Linked DNA regions of Homo sapiens. The protein of the gene in region 1 purifies or fractionates together with the protein of each later gene. This does not show direct contact. Each region holds a gene or a part of one and is shown in the gene's direction. Other genes may lie near its edges. The genes, in order: ECE1, MRC2 and NRCAM.

The links.
Region 2: the proteins of ECE1 (region 1) and MRC2 fractionate together in Homo sapiens (co-fractionation; one large-scale study listed by BioGRID). This does not show direct contact.
Region 3: the proteins of ECE1 (region 1) and NRCAM fractionate together in Homo sapiens (co-fractionation; one large-scale study listed by BioGRID). This does not show direct contact.

Annotation. Positions count from the first base shown.
Region 1 is NC_000001.11:21,280,464-21,284,112, reverse strand, and holds part of ECE1 (endothelin-converting enzyme 1), read left to right. Parts: intron 1-3,649. UniProt on the Homo sapiens protein: Converts big endothelin-1 to endothelin-1.
Region 2 is NC_000017.11:62,679,630-62,683,278, forward strand, and holds part of MRC2 (C-type mannose receptor 2 precursor), read left to right. Parts: intron 1-170; coding exon 171-273; intron 274-540; coding exon 541-679; intron 680-788; coding exon 789-824; intron 825-1,170; coding exon 1,171-1,331; intron 1,332-1,432; coding exon 1,433-1,500; intron 1,501-2,207; coding exon 2,208-2,308; intron 2,309-2,605; coding exon 2,606-2,748; intron 2,749-3,649. UniProt on the Homo sapiens protein: May play a role as endocytotic lectin receptor displaying calcium-dependent lectin activity. Internalizes glycosylated ligands from the extracellular space for release in an endosomal compartment via clathrin-mediated endocytosis.
Region 3 is NC_000007.14:108,190,884-108,194,532, reverse strand, and holds part of NRCAM (neuronal cell adhesion molecule isoform A precursor), read left to right. Parts: intron 1-104; coding exon 105-271; intron 272-361; coding exon 362-509; intron 510-2,679; coding exon 2,680-2,804; intron 2,805-3,249; coding exon 3,250-3,279; intron 3,280-3,649. UniProt on the Homo sapiens protein: Cell adhesion protein that is required for normal responses to cell-cell contacts in brain and in the peripheral nervous system. Plays a role in neurite outgrowth in response to contactin binding.

The DNA of each region.
Region 1 (3,649 bases):
CGAGGCCAGCGGCCATTGGAAGCAGATCGGTGCCCTGACTCACGGCCCAGCCCTTTCCATTGCACCCAGGAATTGGCCACCCTGCCCTGGAGAGGCCTCCTGATCCTGGCCTAGTACCTCTAGGTGACTTCTCCTGCCCCAGGGTGAGGCATCTGGATTCGTTCTGCCTTTAGAGACAAGGCTTATCCAGAAACCATGAGGCCCGTAGCCGATAGTACAAGTCAAGCAAAGAACAAGACAAAGGTTAAAAACTCCATTTTCAAACTCCATTTGCCATTCTTGCCTGGAACTATGAATTTTTAATTCAATTCTGGCTTAATTTTAATTTAATTTTGCAGTGAACACCATCTGTTTAGATTCAGCACTTTGCATCAAACAGTGAGGGTCAGCTCCACTTCCTGTGGTAGGTCTGCGGCTGCCAGTCCTGGAGACGTGGGTTGCCTCACTGTTCTCTCTCCTCTCTCCTTGCCTTCATGCCCCGACTTCCTGGGTTTCTTCTGGAGCTAACGCTAATACCTACTCTTAGGAATGTTGTGAAGATAGGCTGGGTGCAGTGGTTCACGCCTGTAATCCCAGCACTTTGGGAAGCTGAGGCGGGCAGATCACCTGAGGTCGGGAGTTTGAGACCAGCCTGGCCAACATGGTGAAACCCTGTCTCTACTAAAAATACAAAAATTAGCCCGGCGTGGTGGCGGACACCTGTAATCCCAGCTACTCGGGACGCTGAGGCAGGAGAATTGCTTGAACTCGGGAGACAGAGGTTGCAGTGAACAGAGACCTCTCCACTGCACTCCAGCCTGGGCGACACAGTGAGACTCTGTCTCAAAAAAAAAAAATTTAAAAAAAATTCAAAAAAAGGAATGTTATGGGCCGGGCGCTGTGGCTCACGCCTATAATTCCAGCATTTTGGGAGGCCAAGGCGGGTGGATCACGAGGTCAGGAGATTGATTGAGACCATCCTGGCTAACACGGTGAAACCCCATCTCTACTAAAAATACAAAAAATTAGCCAGGTGTGGTGGCATGTGCCTGTAGTCCCAGCTACTTGGGAGGCTGAGGCAGGAGAATCTCTTGAACCCGGGAGGCCAAGGTTGCAATGAGCCGAGATGGCGGCACTGCACTCCAGCCTGGGTGAGAAAGCAAGACTCCGTCTCAAAAAAAAAAAAAAAAAAAAAATAATGTTGTGAAGATAGAATTGCACTATCAAAATAGAATTAATATGATCCCAGGCCCTTAGCACTCAAGTATTTATTTGCTGCCATTGTTCTTTTTTCCCTTTCCTATCCCTCTGTTTCTTTCATCTTCCCCTTCTGTTCCTTTCTTCTCTCCCTTCTCTCCGCAGATGGCTTTGCTCCTTGCTCTTAGCTGTCTCCTTGTCGCCCACACCATGACATTTCCCTGTACATTTAAGGTGAGGTTTTCCTGCATCCCAAGCCTAGTGGCTGCATCCTTTGGCTCCCTGGAGCCAGCACCAGGCACAGGGGTACCTCTTTTCTTTTCTTTTCTTTCTTTTTTTTTTTTTTTTCAAGACAGCGTCTCACTCTGTCACCCAGGCTGGAGTGCAGTGGCGTGATCTCTGCTCATTGCAGCCTCCAGCTCCCAGTTTCAAGTGATTCTCTCACCTCAGCCTCCCCAGTAGCTGGGATTACAGGCATGAGCCACCATGCCTGGCTAATTTTTATATTTTTAGTAGAGACAGGGTTTCACCATGTTGGCCAGGCTGGTCTCAAACTCCCAACCTCAGGTGATCCGCCCACCTCACCCTCCCAAGGTGCTGGGATTACAGTCATGAGCCACTGCGCCTGGCCTCTTTTTTACTTTTTTGAGATAGGGTCTTGCTCTGTTGCCCAGGCTGGAGTGCAGGGGCACAATCATGGCTTACTGCAGCCTCGACCTTCCGGGCTCAAGCAATCCTCCCACCTCAGCCTCCCAAGTAGCTGGGACTACAGGTGCATGCCACCATGCCTAGCTAATTTAATTTAATTTTTTTTAAGAGATGGGGTCTGACTGTGTTGCCCAGGCTGGTCTTGAACTCCTGGGCTCAAGCCATCCTCCTGCCTCAGCCTCCCAAAGTGTTGAGATTATAGGCATGAGCCACCATGCCTGGCTGATGGGTACCTCTTAAACCAAGGTCTCATCCAGGTGCAGTCCAGCACTTTGGGAGGCTGAGGCGGGTGGATCACGATGTTAGGAGTTCGAGATCAGCCTGACCAACATGGTGAAACCCTGTCTCTACTAAAAATACAAAAATTAGCCGGGCGTGGTAGCACATGCCTGTAATCTCAGCTACTCAGGAGACTGAGGCAGGAGAATCGCTTGAACCCGGGAGGCAGAGGTTGCAGTGAGCCGAGATCGTGCCATTGCACTCCAGCCTGGGTAACAGAGGGAGACTCCATCTCAAACAAAACAAAACAAAACAAAACAAAACACTGTCTCACGGCCTCCTTGTGCCCTGTGAGCTGAGCCATGATAATGGGGACATGAGAAGCCTAAAGGAGGAAGGATGAAACAAATTAGGGGCAGCAGGACACATACGTCAGTGTCCCTAGGCAAGGCAGTCCCTGCTTCAAGTCCTTGGGACCCCTCTGAGTACCAGAGACCAAGGTAAAGTGTGTGAGATAACTGATTACTCTGAAAAAGCACTTTATAAACATTTGAGTACAGTGTACATGTTAGCATCATACCAGGCTGTCTCTCTCTGCACCAGGCCCTCACAGCCTGAAGTTTTAATTCATGGTCTGAAACTTTCATTGCTCACTTTTTCAGAAGAGATTCTTGAGGGATTTGAGCGGGCGGCATCCCTCCCACTGCCTGACCCAGCTGCTTCAGTGTCTGAGCCTCCTGGGCCTCCACGGAAGTGTCTCTAAGCCCCAAGATCCTTTGCTCAGTTTTGTTTTGTTTTGTTTTGTTTTGTTTTGTTTTCCGAGACGGAGTCTTGCTCTGTCGCCCAGGCTGGAGTGCAGTGGCGCAATCTCAGCTCACTGCAACCTCCGCCTCCCGGGTTCAAGCGATTCTCCTGCCTCAGCCTCCCGAGTAGCTGGGATTACAGGCGCCTGTCACCACTCCTGGCTAATTTTTGTGTTTTTTAGTAGAGATGGGGTTTCTCTATGTTGGCCAGGCTGGTCTTGAACTCCTGACCTCAGGTGATCCTCCCACTTCAGCCTTTTAAACTGTTGGGACTACAGGCATGAGCCGCCGTGCCCGGCCCCTTTTCTCAGTTTTGGAACCCAGTTTTTTTTTTTCCACAGAAAGTGCTTGTGTTCCTCCATCTCTGGTGCAGCAATTCCCAGTCATTTCCTGCCCAGTAAATACCTAACCATGGCCACGTGGCTTCTCAGTACCCTTCCCTCAACTGACCCACTTCAGATCCCCGAGTGCCAGGGTGGGACTCCCTCAGGGCTCTGACCCGGCACCAGGGGCACCCCTCAGGCTGTTGGTGGGGCCGTTGCAGGTCAGAGTCTGAGTCTCCTCATCTTCCCTGACAGCTTCCCCTCTTCCTGGCAAGCCTTGCTCCCTCCACCCTGCCCTTCCCAAAGGGTAAATCTAATCATGTCACTCCAGTCCTCAAGAGGAAGTCCAGGCTCTTAACCTGGCTTTCTGTGCCCCTTAGGATCTAGGCCCTCCTCTCCTCTCCACTTCCATTCCTTCTT
Region 2 (3,649 bases), on another chromosome or scaffold:
ACCGAAGTGACCTCAACGCTGTATCGATGGGTCAATGTGAAGCCCAGATGGAGAGGCCCCAGGCCCTGGGGGCTGCCCCGGTCACAGCTGCAAGGGACAGGGGGCACGTTTGGGTTCCTGCCCCTCTCACTTCCCATCTCTTCCGTCCCCACTCCTGGGTTGTGCTGAAGTGAATCAGAACCCGAGATCCACGAGCAGCACTGGTTCTGGATCGGCCTGAACCGTCGGGATCCCAGAGGGGGTCAGAGTTGGCGCTGGAGCGACGGCGTAGGGGTGAGGGGGCCTGGGGTACTTGGGACTGCGAGGCCGGGAGCTTGGTGGGCGGGGCCTGTTTGGGGCGGGGCCTGGAGGTGGGCGGGTTTTCTTGAGGGCCGGGCCCCCAGTCGGAGCCGGCTTCAGGAAAGCAGGTCCGAGAGGGGTCACCCGGCCCCCGGTGAGAATTCGCAGCTCAGGCCAGGCCTCTTGTTCACCTGTTCCGGGCATGGGGGCGGCCTGCACCTTGCGCCTCACGTTCCTCTTCCCTCCACCCGCCTCCTCCAGTTCTCTTACCACAATTTCGACCGGAGCCGGCACGACGACGACGACATCCGAGGCTGTGCGGTGCTGGACCTGGCCTCCCTGCAGTGGGTGGCCATGCAGTGCGACACACAGCTGGACTGGATCTGCAAGATCCCCAGAGGTTGGCCGGAGTGGCGCTGGGGGACGCGGGATGGAGCGAAGGGTGGCGGGGCCAGGAATTCCAGGGAGGGTCTCCTTTCCTCACAACGTCTTTGTCCTTGTTCCCCTAGGTACGGACGTGCGGGAGCCCGACGACAGCCCTCAAGGTGAGCACCCCCCAGCCCATCCCGCTACCCATCGCGTGGGAGAGGGCGTCAACTCTGGGGTAAGTCCCGAGAGGCCTGAATGAAATGGAGGGGATGAGGAGTTCCGGTCGAGAGAAGGGGGACGGGGTTGGCTCGGACGGAGGCAGCCACAGCCCTGTTTGCTTCCGTGTGGGAGGCGAGGCAAGCCTGGGGCCTGGGGCCTGGCACGGTGCCTGCCTGGGTCCGGTGTGCCTGCAGGCTCGCCTGCTGCCGCCTGGCTCTGCCCCGGCCCTGCCGCGCCCGCCTCCGGGGCCTGGCGTGCAGCCTCTGCCTGGCCGCCGCTCCCACGCCCGCGCTGCTCCTGCAGGCCGACGGGAATGGCTGCGCTTCCAGGAGGCCGAGTACAAGTTCTTTGAGCACCACTCCACGTGGGCGCAGGCGCAGCGCATCTGCACGTGGTTCCAGGCCGAGCTGACCTCGGTGCACAGCCAGGCGGAGCTAGACTTCCTGAGCCACAACTTGCAGAAGGTGGGCATTGGATTGAGCAGGGGGCTGCAGGCTGGGGGAGGGCAGGCCCGGGATGAGGGCAGGGGGCTGCCTACCCACACCTGCCCGCCTGGCTTCTCCAGTTCTCCCGGGCCCAGGAGCAGCACTGGTGGATCGGCCTGCACACCTCTGAGAGCGATGGGCGCTTCAGGTAGGAACCCAGGCAGGCAGCAGATGTGGAAGGGGGCTGGCTGTCCACACACGGAGCACAGAGGCAGACTTGCATTTGAATCCAGCCCTGCCCCTTCCTTGCTGGCTGTGTGGCCTTGAGCAAGATACTTAACCTTTCTGGGCCTTGGTTTTCTCATCTGAAAATGGGAATATGAGGCCTGCCTGGTAAGATTTTTGTGAAGATTAGAAATAACATATGCGAAGTGCTTACGCAGCATCCAGCACATTAGTTACTAAATAATGGCAGCTCCTGTTACGTCTGGTGTCATTCATCATGACTAAGGCCCTCTCGGGGAAGTGGGCAGAACATATGATGATCCGGGGGCCTCTTTGTATTTGGTGCCTACTTACCATGTACTGGGGGGCTTGAGGCAGGAAGGACCAGGAGCACCTGGGACTCAGAATTTGAGCTTGTCTTTTTGCCCTTGGGCTTCCTGCCCTGGAGTCCTCAGGCTTCTTTTCTGGAGCAGCAAGTGTCCAGGGACAGCTGGGGCCTTATCTAGAGGCACCAGGTCCTTGGGTCTTTGACTGCCCTGAGCTCAGTAGCTCCACCCCTCAGCCTACAGCCACTAAACCCCAGAACCTGGGCCCTTCCCTGCCCCCATTCCTGCGGCCTTCATTGCTGCATCCGGTGGAGGCCCAGCTGGGGGCCGGTGCTGGAGTTACCTCTGCTCCATGCCATTGCAGATGGACAGATGGTTCCATTATAAACTTCATCTCCTGGGCACCAGGCAAACCTCGGCCTGTCGGCAAGGACAAGAAGTGCGTGTACATGACAGCCAGCCGAGGTGAGGGCAAGGTGGGGGCAGAGTGCGCAGTCAGCTGTGCAAAGGGTTAATGCTGGGCGAGCCTGGGCAGAAGTCATCAGTCTGTTCTCATTCTCTTTGTTCCCACAACCCAATAAAGGCTAGACTCAGCGAGGGGTGGACCTGTCTCCATGGTCCAGAAGACTTGAATTCGGAGCTGGACACAGGCCCTGAGCCTCTGCCCAGACTCCTCTCAGGGCATGAGGCTGAGTGTGCTGCCAGCCATGCCCTGCCCTGCTCTGCCCTGGGGGTGACTGCCCTCCCCTCCCCTTTCCGCAGAGGACTGGGGGGACCAGAGGTGCCTGACAGCCTTGCCCTACATCTGCAAGCGCAGCAACGTCACCAAAGAAACGCAGCCCCCAGACCTGCCAACTACAGCCCTGGGGGGCTGCCCCTCTGACTGGATCCAGTTCCTCAACAAGGTAGGAGGTGGCAATGGGGCACCCAAGGGAGTCAGGGGAGAGGACGTGAACAGGGAAAGGCTGAGCCTCAGGAGTCCTGGCCTTTTGGCAGCACCAAACTCATGGCCTCTTGCCTGTACCCACCAACTTCTCTTTCACCTGGCTCCAGTACCAGGGCCAGACTCCTTGGAAAATGACTCACTGTAGTAGCACCTTCCAATCCTCCGGGAAGCAAGGTTGTCCAAATAATTTGGTGAGTGTTCTAGATCAGTGATTGCCAAAGATTTTTTTTTTTTTTTTTTGAGAAGGAGTTTCACTCTTGTCACCCAGGCTGGAGTGCAGTGGCGCGATCTCGGCTCACTGCAACCTCTGCTTCCTGGGTTCAACCAATTCTCTTGCCTCAGCCTCCCGAGTAGCTGGGATTACAGGCACCTGCCACCACCCCTGGCTAATTTTTGTATTTTTAGTAGAGATGGGGTTTCACCATGTTGGCCAGGCTAGTCTCGAACCCCTGAACTCAGGTGATCACCTGCCTTGGCCTCCCAAAGTGCTGGGATTACAGATGTGAGCCACCGCGCCCGGCCTGATTGCCGGCCTGATTATCAAAGATTTTGATAATGAACTCCTATTAGTAAAACAAAATATTGAGCTTACATGACCAAACTATGTGTGTGTACATTTAACTTATATATGTATATGTGTGTGTAAATAAAACCTACTTCCATACTAATATGACTAATATTATATATAGTAAAATATGTATAAGAACAAAAGAGTATAAAACATTAGCTAAAGATTTTTAAATACTTTTAAGTTTAAAACATTTTTTTGGCTGCGCGTGGTGGGTCATGCCTGTAATCCCAGCCCTTTGGGAGGCTGAGGCGGGTGAATCACCTGAGATTAGGAGTTCGAGACCAGCCTG
Region 3 (3,649 bases), on another chromosome or scaffold:
TTTCACATTCATCATGGTCATGTTGACCTTGAACATGGCATTTTATGTCTGACTTCAAAATATAATGTGTTTTTATTCTCATTGTGATAATTTCTGTAATGAAGGTTTAAAGGAGCTAAAGGAAGTGCTCTTCATGAAGATATTTATGTTTTACATGAAAATGGAACTTTGGAAATTCCTGTGGCCCAAAAGGACAGTACAGGAACTTATACGTGTGTTGCAAGGAATAAATTAGGGATGGCGAAGAATGAAGTTCACTTAGAAATCAAAGGTAAGGCAGAGGTAATGTGTTTAATTTTTAAATGACTTTGAACAAATTCTCCAGCTTTGCCAAATGGATAACGATGACTCTACATTTCAGATCCTACATGGATCGTTAAACAGCCCGAATATGCAGTTGTGCAAAGAGGGAGCATGGTGTCCTTTGAATGCAAAGTGAAACATGATCACACCTTATCCCTCACTGTCCTGTGGCTGAAGGACAACAGGGAACTGCCCAGTGATGAAAGGTATTTGAAGACGATTTCTTTACTTTCTCTTCATTCTTTCTTTAAGCTATTCTTGAACTAAAGGTCTACTATGTAGTCAATTATGGTGATGTTTTTAGTTTCTGAAGTCTGCTGTCTCCAAAATAGAGAGATAAGCATTTTCTCCCTACTGTAAAATATATGCACCCAAGAAGGTATCAGGTGATTGAAATAGGACCCTGAGAATGTTTGTCTATCTTTGCGTGCTGGTCTCTTGTGTAATTCAGGATGGGAAAAAACCCTCAGGCCTGGACAGCATCCATTGTTTTATACCTTGAACAGCGAAGTCTCAACAGATGTTTTCATTACCTTTCTACAAATAAGCAGAAATATGACCTCTTTAATCACCAAAGACTGCTCAAATCCTTGTCAGTATTTTAAGACACTCGTTTTTATTTGGATAGGGAGTTTTTCTTTTGATTTTACCTAAAGCCAGTGAAAGGGGAAGGAAAAACAAAAACAGGTAGAGCATTTAAAAGAGCCCAAGCATGCTGCAGATTTCATTAAGAATGGAAGAAAGGTCATGGCATTTTCCAGATGAGACCCTCAATTTGACATAGTAGTACAGAGTAGATATGTGTTAGTTTTAGCAAAGTGGCTATAGGCCTCACTCTCTATTAGAAGGAATGCTGTATTCTGGTCGAAATCATTTGTGTGGTTCACCTACAGCTGACCTAAAATTGTGGTGCCTAAATATTGCCCTGTTGCTTGTCAATGACCCTGGAAGAACTCTGTGGCCTTCTCTTTTATGTGCCTAGAGTCTCCATCTAATTTTATGCTTGAACTAGTCAATTTTATTTGTTGAGTTGATAAAGATGAAAAGGTGTGGTGGTCTCACACCTGTGGTCCCAGCTACCTGGGAGGCTGAGGTGGGAGAATTACCTGGGCCCAGAAGGTTGAGACTCCAGTGAGCCATGACTGTACCACTGCACTCCAGCCTGGGTGACAGAGTGAGACCCTGTCTTTAAGATTAAAAGGAAACATAAAGAAATGACCATCAGGTTAAGGTGGCTGAAGCTTTTACTTGGAAATTAACTGAGAAGACAGTTTATGACTTAGGCAGTTTCATTAAAATAATACACTAATTCTCTATACATTAATTTTTTGATCTACTGAGCAATTTTTCATGCCCACAAGTTCCCTCTAGAAAAGTCTTAGAGAGATTGTTCATCTAAATCTTCCTGTTTCTAGTGATAAAGCAAATTATTATTCTTTGCATTTAATTTCTCCTATGAGAGTTTATACATGTAAGAAAATGACATGATTTTCTGCAGTAAATAATAAAGTATTTAAAATATATACTTTGATAGAAATTGAACTGAATGAGTGGTTTTCCAATGTTTCTTGGCAGCAAAAGCCTTAGTAAAGCCCTTTAGTAAGGCTAATGCTGGAACTATTCTTCGCCTCCTTCCCCTGGGAACTTAAGGAAGCTCCTTCCTCTCCCTCTAGAGCAGTGGTCCCCAACCTTTTTGGCACCAGGGACTGGTTTCATGGAAGACAGTTTTTCCACGGACAGGGTGGGGGCACAATGGCTTCAGGATGATTCAAGCACATTACATTTACTGTGCACTTTATTTCTATTATTATTATGTTGTAATATGTATATACATATATATATTATTACATGTAATATATACAGTGACAGATCATCAGGCATTAGATTGTCATAGGAGAGCACAGTCTAGATCTAGATCTCTCACTTGCACAGTTCACAATAGGGTTCACCTTCCTGTGAGAATCTAATGCTGCCACTAATCTGACAGGAGGCGGAGCTCAGCTTCACTCGCCCCATTCCCCTGGGGCCTAAGGAAACTCCTACCACACCCTCTAGAGCAGCGGTCCCCTCTGCAGCCCAGTTCCTAACAGGACAGTACCCAGTTCTTGGCCCAGGGTTTGGGGACCCGTGCTCTAGAGGCCTGGTTGAAAAATACTGTGCCAGAGGACATATCCCTTCTAACCCAATATTCTAATTGATTCTCATTGTTTTTCAACTTTAATCATTCTTAAAGTGATATGTATTTTGCTCTAACTTTTGAAAGTGTTTACCATCTTTCTCCTTTATCAAATTTACAGTTTTTTTCCTGCCAGTGAAGCAATTATAGGGTACGGCTGCATGTCCATTTCAGCTGCTCTGAATGCATTCTATCCACAGGTTCACTGTTGACAAGGATCATCTAGTGGTAGCTGATGTCAGTGACGATGACAGCGGGACCTACACGTGTGTGGCCAACACCACTCTGGACAGCGTCTCCGCCAGCGCTGTGCTTAGCGTTGTTGGTAAGAACGAAAACAAAAATAGCACAACTGGCTTCCCTGCATTTGGTTGAAAAGAAAAAATAAGATAAAAATTATAAATATCAAATATTTGCTTGTTAATATGCATGGGTGAGTTCATACCCATGTTTTTCTTCTTTGAAAGATGCCTTGGAGGCAATAATTTCAGTATAAATAGACTGTGTAGCAGCACTGGGTGAAATGGTGGATATGCACATTAGTAACCTTTTTTGTAATAAAATAAGGAGAAATGATCTACTTGTATCTAAAATTGAAGGTTTTTTTTCCTAAATTGTTACTGCATGTTTATCAATGCTGTGTCTCACAGCTAAGCATAGGGCTTAATTTTATAACCTTGAATAATGTACAGTCTTTGTCATCTTGTGCTATCTTGTATCTTTCCATTACTAATTTTGATTAAAATCCTTTATATTAATGTCCTTTCTAGCTCCTACTCCAACTCCAGCTCCCGTTTACGGTAAACTAATATGAGTCTTCTTTCTCTGTTTTCTGTCAAACAATTTCACATTTGCAGAAAGTATTCATAACTTTCTTTTCTATGTCACATAATTGTGTTTCTTAAGGAAAAGGTCTCTGTCAGTTGTTATGTTGTGTCACCCATTTACTGACAATGAATCATTTCTTCATCATAACCACAGATTTTTCACCAAGTTCGTTGCCAGTTCTTTCTAAATAGTTCATGTGCTATTATAAAATCACTTCGTTTGATAAAAGTCCCTCTTTGATGCAATTTCCTTTTAAAGTAGCATAGTGCTTTTTCAAAAGCCATCATCCACATTTTACAGAATGAAAAAGCTATTTCTAATATCATTCTACAAATTAGGCTT